Homo sapiens: one gene and its partners. The protein of the gene in region 2 purifies or fractionates together with the protein of the main gene of each other region. This does not show direct contact. Each region holds a gene or a part of one and is shown on either strand. Other genes may lie near its edges.

What was found.
Region 1: the proteins of PDE6D (region 2) and HP purify together in Homo sapiens (affinity purification with mass spectrometry; one large-scale study listed by BioGRID and IntAct). This does not show direct contact.
Region 3: the proteins of PDE6D (region 2) and ORM1 purify together in Homo sapiens (affinity purification with mass spectrometry; one large-scale study listed by BioGRID and IntAct). This does not show direct contact.

The regions. Positions count from the first base shown.
Region 1 is NC_000016.10:72,057,364-72,061,117, reverse strand, and holds the end of HP (haptoglobin isoform 1 preproprotein), read right to left. Parts: intron 3,727-3,754; coding exon 3,652-3,726; intron 2,865-3,651; coding exon 2,763-2,864; intron 2,005-2,762; coding exon 1,930-2,004; intron 1,007-1,929; coding exon 228-1,006; 3' UTR 63-227; downstream 1-62. UniProt on the Homo sapiens protein: As a result of hemolysis, hemoglobin is found to accumulate in the kidney and is secreted in the urine. Haptoglobin captures, and combines with free plasma hemoglobin to allow hepatic recycling of heme iron and to prevent kidney damage.
Region 2 is NC_000002.12:231,731,863-231,734,191, reverse strand, and holds the end of PDE6D (retinal rod rhodopsin-sensitive cGMP 3',5'-cyclic phosphodiesterase subunit delta), read left to right. Parts: intron 1-1,158; coding exon 1,159-1,240; 3' UTR 1,241-1,759; downstream 1,760-2,329. UniProt on the Homo sapiens protein: Promotes the release of prenylated target proteins from cellular membranes. Modulates the activity of prenylated or palmitoylated Ras family members by regulating their subcellular location.
Region 3 is NC_000009.12:114,321,551-114,325,304, reverse strand, and holds the start of ORM1 (alpha-1-acid glycoprotein 1 precursor), read right to left. Parts: upstream 2,208-3,754; 5' UTR 2,172-2,207; coding exon 2,058-2,171; intron 1,643-2,057; coding exon 1,500-1,642; intron 1,288-1,499; coding exon 1,217-1,287; intron 516-1,216; coding exon 408-515; intron 257-407; coding exon 153-256; intron 1-152. UniProt on the Homo sapiens protein: Functions as a transport protein in the blood stream. Binds various ligands in the interior of its beta-barrel domain. Also binds synthetic drugs and influences their distribution and availability in the body.

The DNA of each region.
Region 1 (3,754 bases), on a different chromosome or scaffold from region 2:
TGACTACCCTGGACCATAAAGGAGCAAATAAAAAAGACTCAAGACTGAACACAACACAGAAATGGGTCAAAAGAAAGCTCTTTATTGATTGACTCAGCAATGCAGGGCTGGCACCCATCAGCTTCAAACCACATCTTATCGCATCCACTCCTGTCCACTCCCGTCCACTTTGCCCTCTTCCAGGCTGAAATCTTGCTTTCAGGCAAGGGCTTCCGGCCAGCCTTGCATTAGTTCTCAGCTATGGTCTTCTGAACCCAGTCCTGGATGGAAGTCACCTTCACATACACACCATACTCAGCCACAGCACAGCTCTTATCAAAGCTTAAGATCCCAGTCGCATACCAGGTGTCCTCCTCCAGGTCGTGAACGGCAAAGGCACTGCCCGCATCGCCATAGCAGGTGTCTTCTTGGTACTTAGACATGCCAGCACAGAAGGTGTGTTCATTCAGTATGGGCTGCACCCCTACAGGGCTCTTCGGTGTCTTCTTTTCGGGGACTGTGCTGCCTTCATAATGCCTTATGCATTGGTCTTGGTCAGCCACAGGCAGCATGACATACTTCAGATGGTCAGTAAATTTAAAATTGGCATTTCGCCCCCAGCCAGAAACATAACCCACACGCCCTACTTCTGCATAATCCTTTGAAGGTAGGCAGATGGGCATCACTCTCTCATTAACAGACACCTTCTGTTTGAGTTTGATGAGCCCAATATCTACCTGGGAGTAGTTAGGGTGTAGAACAACCTTCTCAATCTCTACAAGCTGCTTTTTCCCCACATAGAGTGTTAAAGTAGGGGCAATGTCTTTCGCTGTTGCATTTTCTGAATGGTTCAGGAAGAGATTTTTAGCCGTGGTCAGCAGCCATTGTTCATTGATCAGCGTGGCACCTGTGGTGAGATTATGGTGGGAAACCATCTTAGCCTGCCAGGGAAAGCTGCCTTTGGCATCCAGGTGTCCACCCAGGATCCGCTGCACTGGGTTTGCCGGATTCTTGGGCTTCCCACATACTGTCAAGGAGAGCAAGACACTCGTGAGTGGAAATGTGCAAGAGCCTTTCCATCTGAGAAAGGGGTGAAAGCATGGGCGGCTGTCACTGCTGCGTAAAGTAGAAAGATTTAAATGCTTTGCCCTTACCACCTGCTGATCTCATTTCCAATAGTTGCAGTTTTAAAATAATTCTGTTTTTTAAATTGTTTACATTACAAAAAGCTCTATTTCCCACTTTTCTAACAAAGGAAGTGGGAAATACTGAGATTTTTGAGCCCTGGCTGGTGAACTGTATTATATTTAAACAATTATCCCAATAAAGGAATTTCCACAATTCCCTGAAATTCATTGAAAGGGCTAGGGGCTACAATAATTCATTCTCTCTAAAGAAAGATGAATCTAGAGCAGCACTGGCTGGAGCTCAGATTTTGTAGATGGTGCAGTTAATACGAGGCAGGTTGGCATTTCCACACCAGTAAGAGCAGAAGAGGCTGGGCCTTTGCCTCTTGTTCTGAGAATGAAAGGAGAGAGCAACAGCTCCTCCTAATAACGAGAAGCAGGAGTTCCAGCCCATGTCCAGCCTCCTGCTAGGCTTCCATGGATTAAGATTTTATGTCATTCCTTGACTTGTTCTCCCTGGAGCTTGCTTCTCCTTAGACCCAGGGCTCTCTAGCAGGCTCTCTGTATGCACAGGCTCTCCTAATCTGTGGGCGATGTAGACAATGGATTCAGCCAGTGCCCTTCAGGCCCTAATGAACAAGACCCTTGGTGACCCTTAGGGAGTCATCACCTAACTGCTTAAGTCTCTCCCTGGCCAGCTGCGGTTCTCCCACATCCCTCCTCCTGGCTCTTGTGTGCTCAGAGGAAGCCGCACTGGAAGGCTGTGCCTCTAGGACGTTCCCCGCTGGACGCCTGCCTGCTCTCTTAAGTGCTCAGCACCCACCTGCTTCACATTCAGGAAGTTTATCTCCAACAGCCTTATTTATCCACTGCTTCTCATTGTTTAAGGTGTACACTCCTGAAACAAAAGGCAAGAAGTGAGCCAAAGGAGAAGTCAAGTCTAGACCCCGTGCAGAGTGAGAAGGCATTTAAAGAGAAGAACTAAAAGGAAGAGGAAAAGGGGACAAAAAGGAAGGGGAAAAGGAGAGAGTATATGAGAAGGAGGAAGGGAAAGAGTGCTGTGCTGGAAGCCAAGTGCCTGGATGCCAGTTAAGCCCAGCAGAACACACTGTGGTCATGGCGGTCACAGCCAAGCAGTACAGGGAGGGCTCAGGGTTCAAATCCTGACTCTGCCTCTTACAGGCTGCCTGAATTTGGGCAAGATACTCAACCTGTCTGTGCCTCAGTTTCCTTATCAGCAAAGTGAAAACAATAAACTCTGTTCAGAGGGATACTGTGAGGACTAAGTGAGCAAATAAGTATAAAGCCCTTAGAGCAGTGCCAGGACAGCAAGACTCACTAGGTGAGGGTGACATCATCATCAGCATTCCTTCTTTTCCCACATCTGCTGGAGATGTAAATGTGACTCTGAGATTTACATGAGGTAGGCTGCATGGCATCGCCTCCCCTTAACAAAACAGAAAACTTGAGGCTGACAAAAGTTAGTCTGCCCAAAGGGCCATGGCTACTGGCGACAAAACGCTTATTAGAATCTAAATCTCCTGGCTCCAAGGAGAGCAACGAACTTTCTGGCGAATCACCTCAGCACCACCCATCATGGAAATGTCAGAGAAGGGGGTTGTATGTAGGGCATGGAGACAGTTGTCCACATCTTACCATCTCCTTCTGTGCGCAGTTTGTAGTAGTTCTTACACTGGTAGCGAACCGAGTGCTCCACATAGCCATGTGCAATCTCGGGGGGCTTCGGGCAGCCGTCATCTGCAAAGAGAGAGAAGCCAGAGAGTTTGCTATTTGGAAATTGTTCCCAGTGAACCGTGAAAAGTCAGATGAGCGGGAGCTGCTCTGCACATCAATCTCCTTCCACCCCGAATAGAAGCTCGCGAACTGTATTATTTTTAAACAATTATCCCAATAAAGGAATTTCCACAATTCCCTGAAATTCATTGAAAGGGCTAGGGGCTACAATAATTCATTCTCTCTAAAGAAAGATGAATCTAGAGCAGCACTGGCTGGAGCTCAGATTTTGTAGATGGTGCAGTTAATACGAGGCAGGTTGGCATTTCCACACCAGTAAGAGCAGAAGAGGCTGGGTCTTTGCCTCTGGTTCTGAGAATGAAAGGAGAGAGCAACAGCTCCTCCTAATAACGAGAAGCAGGAGTTCCAGCCCATGTCCAGCCTCCTGCTAGGCTTCCATGGATTAAGATTTTATGTCATTCCTTGACTTGTTCTCCCTGGAGCTTGCTTCTCCTTAGACCCAGGGCTTTCTAGCAGGCTCTCTGTATGCACAGGCTCTCCTGATCTGTGGGCAGTGCCGACAGTGGATTCAGCCAGTGCCCTTCAGGCCCCAATGAACAAGACCCTTGGTGACCCTTAGGGAGTCATCACCTAACTGCTTAAGTCTCTCCCTGGCCAGCTGCGGTTCTCCCACATCCCTCCTCCTGGCTCTTGTGTGCTCAGAGGAAGCCGCACTGGAAGGCTGTGCCTCTAGGACGTTCCCCGCTGGACGCCTGCCTGCTCTCTTAAGTGCTCAGTGCTCAGCACCCACCTGCTTCACATTCAGGAAGTTTATCTCCAACAGCCTTATTTATCCACTGCTTCTTATCATTTAAGGTGTATACTCCTGAAACAAAAGGCAAGAAATGAGCCAA
Region 2 (2,329 bases):
CGGAGGCTGGAGTGCAGTGGCGTGATCTCGGCTCACTGCAAGCTCCGCCTCCCGGGTTCCCACCATTCTCCTGCCTCAGCCTCCCGAGTAGCTGGGACTATAGGCGCCCGCCACCACGCCTGGCTAATTTTTTTGTATTTTTAGTAGAGACAGGGTTTCACCCTGTTTAGCCAGGATGGTCTCAATCTCCTGACCTTGTGATCCGCCCACCTCGGACTCCCAAAGTGCTGGGATTACAGGCATGAGCCACCGTGCCCGGCTACTTAACTTTTTAGAACCCCCAAAAACAGTTGCCCTAAACTCAGCTCAAGTGTGATTTGGTAAGGCCATGGTCTCTCCCATTTTACAAATGGGAGCACCGAGATACCCACCAAGAAAAATGAAATTCTTCCCTCACACCTCACAATACAGGTGCATCATTTAGTGTTCTGTAGTTGTAAGTCATAGAAACAGGCTCTGGCTAATACAAGAGCTGAAAGACTAAGGGGGAGAGCTGGGCGGCTTGGAAGATGCAGATGGGCAGGAATCCCTGGATGGCTTCCTCAAGGAGAAGCTACAGGAAGGATCTTGCTCAAGAGAAAGAGTCTGATTGGCCTAAGTTACATCCTCTGTTCACCCTTTTGCCAGGTGAGTGAGGGGCCACTCACTTGGCACATGGACTGGAGGAAGGGTGGTTCCCAAATGAAGAGCAAGGTGCTGTTACCCAAAGGCAGGAAAATAGATGTGGGCCAGGCCAAAGCCCACCTTTCGACTATTGTGAGTACTGTAGGGAAGGATACTGCCCCTGAGGTCTGCAGGCTTCTATATGTAAGCCAGCCAGAGGTGTCCATGAATGCAGTATCAGAAAGTCAGTCGGATCTATAAGCACCCTGTGTGCAGAGCACTCTACTAAGGGCTTTAGAGTGTACCAAGGAGTGGAGACATGCTCTCACTTCTGATTTGTGAGCTTGACAGGGATGAATGTAACCACATAAGTTAAATGTCATGTTAGACTTGTAGCCCCATATAGACAAGGATTTTAATGTCCCCAAGCTAAGACTCTGGGTGGGTGCATGTCCATTGGCCCAGGAATCCAGATGGAAACCACTTTGTGGAAATGAAATCTTGTGCCTAACATGCTCACTCTCTTTTGCCCTCTGTTTCTCTTCTTACTTACAGTGGGAACGTTATCATAGAAACAAAGTTTTTTGACGACGATCTTCTTGTAAGCACATCCAGAGTGAGACTTTTCTATGTTTGAAAGAAGAATGTGTGTACATTTCAAGAATTTGGGTTTTTTGGAGGGAGGAGGAAACTGTTTACTTTTTTCCTCCACACGTTTGATTTTTGACACATACACCCCTAATTCCCTCAACAGCAGAACCTACCTGCAGCCACCAGGGGACCAGCTCTGTGTAGGTAACCAGATGGCTCTTTTTCCCAAGCCACCATCTTCCAGCTGACCAGACTAAACTCCCAACCCCAGACCAGGGCAGGGGACAGGTCTCAAGTCCTTCCCAGCATACACACAGGGAACAAACACATACCACAAACCGGTAACTGTACCTGTCACCCTCCTTGTCTCCTCCTTGGGCCCTACAGGCTACACATCTACCTTTGGCCCCTGGTTTTGGAAAAATTCCGTGTTCCTGACCCATGTTTAGTTTTTTCCTACCATTTCTATTTCATACATTCTCATACATTTAACTTGTAAAATAGACTGTGATATTATTACATAATGTAATTAAAAATATGAATTAAAATATTCCTACAGTCTTTAGCATGGCACTGCTTTTATCTCTCCTTTTTCTGGAAAGTGAACCTGGCTGCATAATGGAAAGAAACCAAATATAAGATCACAACTGTATTTCACTCCAGGAATGGAACTGATAGATCTTGTTCCCTAGTGCCACAGTTACTGCTTTCCAAAATTGTGCAACATACTTGAACCAAACCCATGACCTTAACATTTGTCTTTTAGACACAATCTTTAATGGTTCTTTTCCACAACATACATGCACCCTTTGTTTGTTTATTATTGTTAATTTTTTCTATTTGTTTACAGTATTCATTTGTTCAAGAAGTTTCAAGAAAGGGCAATTCTAAGTTAGTAGAGTAGGGACTCTCATATTCCTAAATGAGACTAGAAGCTACAAAATGAAAAGATCTGCATGAACCTAACTGGAGAATGATGGGAAGGCGTCTGGGCTGGGAGGAGGCTGGGAGGCCTTTAAGACTGTCGTCATTGGAAGCCAGCGTGGGAGAGAAGGGATTACAACTGGCAGTGCTTTCAGGTCCGACATAAGAGAGAACACCAAAAAGTGTTCTTACCTCTGAGCTACTAGTAGCC
Region 3 (3,754 bases), on a different chromosome or scaffold from region 2:
GCTCAGCTGTCCCTACAGTGAGGCAGGTGCCTAAAAGCAGAAGATCTGCCTAGCTGTGCAGCCTTGCCTGGCAGCTCTCCTGCTCTGGGCCTCTGGGGCTGCCCAAGTTGGGCCATGGACAAGGTGGGCACTGTCCAATCCCTTGCGTTTACCTTTTTCCAATCGGTGTACACGACATCTGACTTGGGAATGCGCAAGCAGTCGAGAGCTTCGTAGAACTCTCCCAGTTGCTCCTTGGTCGTCTCTGGCTTGTCAGCTGCAGGGGGAGCAAGGAGACTGACTGGGGACATGGTGGGGCCCGGCGGGAGGCCAGGGAGGGCTGGGGTTCTAGGGGCCAGCCCAGGGGTGGGTGAATGGGGGGTGAGGCCTGAGAGGGGCATGAGTTTGGGGCTGCTAAGCATGCCTACCATAGACAGACAGCCCCCAGTTCTTCTCATCGTTCACGTCAAAAGCAAGCATGTAGGTCTTGGTGTCCCTGAGGATCAGCAAGTGAGCGAAATGCTCTTGGCCTCCCACTGGAAGAGAAAAGGAGCCTCTGGGTGAGAACATGGGATGGCACAATGGTGTCTGTCTTACAGGTGAGGAGGCCTAGGTGTGTCAGTGGCCACACAGCCCATCAGTGAAGGCCCAGGGCTCCTTTGGGCCACCGTGTGCCCAGCCCCTGCTGCATGCCCAGCTCCACGCCAAGCACTTTCTGTACATGAGATCTCAGGAGCCTCACACAGACCGTGGCTGTCAGGGCCTTTCTCCGTTTTACAGATGAGGAAAATGAGGCCCAGAGAGGAGGCTCGGGATGCTAAATGGTGTCAGTTCAGCTCCATCAGCTCCCTGCCATGTGCCACCTCTGCGGTGATGGGGGACATAGTTGAAGGTACCACCTCTCCAACATACAGGCTTCTACCATTGGTTTGCAAAGGATCTTAAAGAGGGCATGAGAGAGAGGCAGATCTGAAGCCAGCCTGGAGTTCCAATTCTAGTTCTAATTATAAGCTGTGTGACCTTGGGGAAACTATTTGAGGTCTCTGTTCTTCTTTTTCCTCCTCTAATTCTCTCAGTGTCCTCTTAGAGTTGTTTCTGAGCACATCGTTAGAGCTCAAAAATGTTAGTGGTTATTTCTCTGTGCCCAAAGCCTCCAGGGCTCTACATCCAGCCCCCACCTTATGCTGGCCTGCCCTGTTCCCACAGTGAACCCTCCTGCCTGAGGGCTGGCCCTCACCGTATCTGGAGATGGTCCCATTTTCCCGCTGGACATTCAGGTAGGTGGTGTTATAGATGCACTGGTCCTGTCTAAAGCCAAACAGAAGGCGGAAGGAAAACAGGAAGATTATTGAGAAGTGGCCAATCGCCCATCACAGTCCTGGGGCAAGAGTCTGGTGGAGATTAAAGCCAGCCCTCCCGGTTCCACCCATGGGAAGGCCAAGGCCAGGAAGAAGGAGGGACTTGCTCAGGTCTTCTGGCCAGAAGCTGAGATGGGGGTGCATTGGAATGGGGGCTCTCACCGGGTCTGGTACTCTCTGAGAAAGATCGTGTCCTCTGTCTTGTTGGGGGTGAAGTAAAAGAAGGTTGCTTGGATCTCCTGAACCGACTTATTGTACTCCTCGTTTCGAAAGGCCGATGCGATATAAAACCACTTGCCAGTGATCTGGGGAGAAGGTGGGAGCTGGTGATGGGGGCTTGATGCTGAATCTTTGACTGTCAGCTGGGAGGAGACTCAGGCAGATCTCTCCCTGATTTTGCAGATGGGGAGATGAGGCCCCTGGTGGGCAGTGCGCATGCAGGAGCTCACCCTGAGGATCAGTCATTGCCCCCCAGGCAGCCCCTCCAGGCCCAGCACAGAACCGTCCTCCGTGAAGGACTCTGCAGTGAGGCTTCTGTGTTTGGAGGCAGGGGGTGCCTCCAGAGTCCCCTGGGCTGGTGAGAATTTCACCCTGGGGACCCAGAAGAGAAAAAGGCAGAGCCGGGAGTGGGGGTCCGACCACAGCCAGCAGGGAAAGGGAAGCCCAGAGAAGGGAGGCAGCTGCCCATGTGCTCAGGACAGGGCTAGCCCAGGCACTCACCCGGTCCAGGGTGGCGTTGGTGATGGGCACCGGTACTAGGTTGGCACACAATGGGATCTGGGCTTCCAGCAGAGGTAGGAGGCTCAGGACTGTAAGAACCCAGGACAGCGCCATACTGAGACCAGGAGGCACGTGGAGCCAGGCAGTGCTGGTGGCTGCAGGGTGCAGTCACCTTTATAATAAACTATGGGCGGTCACTTGGAGCCCAGCAAAAGTTTACTCTGTGTCTGTGACACAATCCTGCCAGCACTTGGGAAATGCCTCGCACAAAACCTCCCCCAAAGGCCAGCTCGGAGCACCGCCTCCAAACCCAGGTCTAATTTGAGTTCCTCACATGGAGAGGTTACAAAAGCCCTAGAGTATGGCTGCCCAAGGCCAAGGTGGGTGCGGGGCTGCAGCAACATTAGTAAACGTGTGAGTCCACAGATTTCCTAGAGAGGCCTCCCGCAGAGGAATCTCATGTCTTCATTCAATTCCTATCCCTCTGAGTGCCAAGACTTACTTCAGTGGGACCCAGCCACAAACCTAATGATGAAGCCACCTTTGAGGGTCCCCAGGCTGGCATGGGATGTATGTTGTGGCGGGGAGAGTTGGGGTGAAGGATGCCGGGGAAGACAAACATAGATTCAGTTCCACTGAGTGTGGCAACAGCTGTGTCAGAGCCAAAGTTCATTGGGGCCCCAACCCAGCCCTGGACGCAGGCACATTTCCAAAAAGGGACATCCAAGTTGAATGTCTATTTCCAGTAAATATACTACTCGAAGCATCTCCCAACATCTCAAACAGGAAACTGTCTCCCTGTTTTCCCCCATTCCCTGCCATCTGAGCAGGCAGCTTGCTTCTCTTTCACCAATACGCCCCCAATCCTGGAGCAGTGCCCAGCACTTCAAGGGCACTCGGTATATTCTGTGGAATGAGTGATTCCGTGGCCCATTTGTGTTCCTACCTCACGGGTCAAGTCTTTATTTGTATGAATAAATACTTTCAGAAAGTATTCATTTTTTTTTTTTTTTGATACGGAGTTTCACTCCCGTCCCCCAGGCTGGAGTGCAATGGCTCAATCTCGGCTCACTGCAACCTGTGCCTCCTGGGTTCAAGCGATTCTCCTGCCTCAGCCTCCTGAGTCGCTGGGATTACTGGTGCCCTCCACAACGCCCAGCTAATTTTTTTTGTTGTTGTTATTTTCAGTAGAGATGGGGTTTCTCCATGTTGGCCAGGCTGGTCTGGAACTCCCGACCTCAGGTGACTCACCCGTCTCGGCCTCCCAAAGTGCTGGGATTACTCAGAAAGTATTCTTACGGTATGATTATAATTTTGCATTCTTATTCATTTCATTCTGAATAACTTTCATATTTCAGTGTAGTTTGTAGTTAAAAGCTTAATGGACCCAAGATGGGAGAGTCACCTGAGTCCTGGAGTTCAAGACTAGCCTGGGCAACATAGTGAGACCCTATCTTTACACAAAAATATTTAAAAATTAGCCAGGTCGGCCAGGCGCGGTGGCTCACGCCTGTAATCCCAGCACTTTGGGAGGCTGAGGCGGGCGGATCATGAGGTCAAGAGATGGAGACCATCCTGGCTAACATGGTGAAACCCCATCTCTACTAAAAATACAAAAACAAAATTAGCTGGGCGTGGTGGCAGGCGCCTGTAGTCCCAGCTACTTGGGAGGCTGAGATGGGAGAATGGCGTGAACC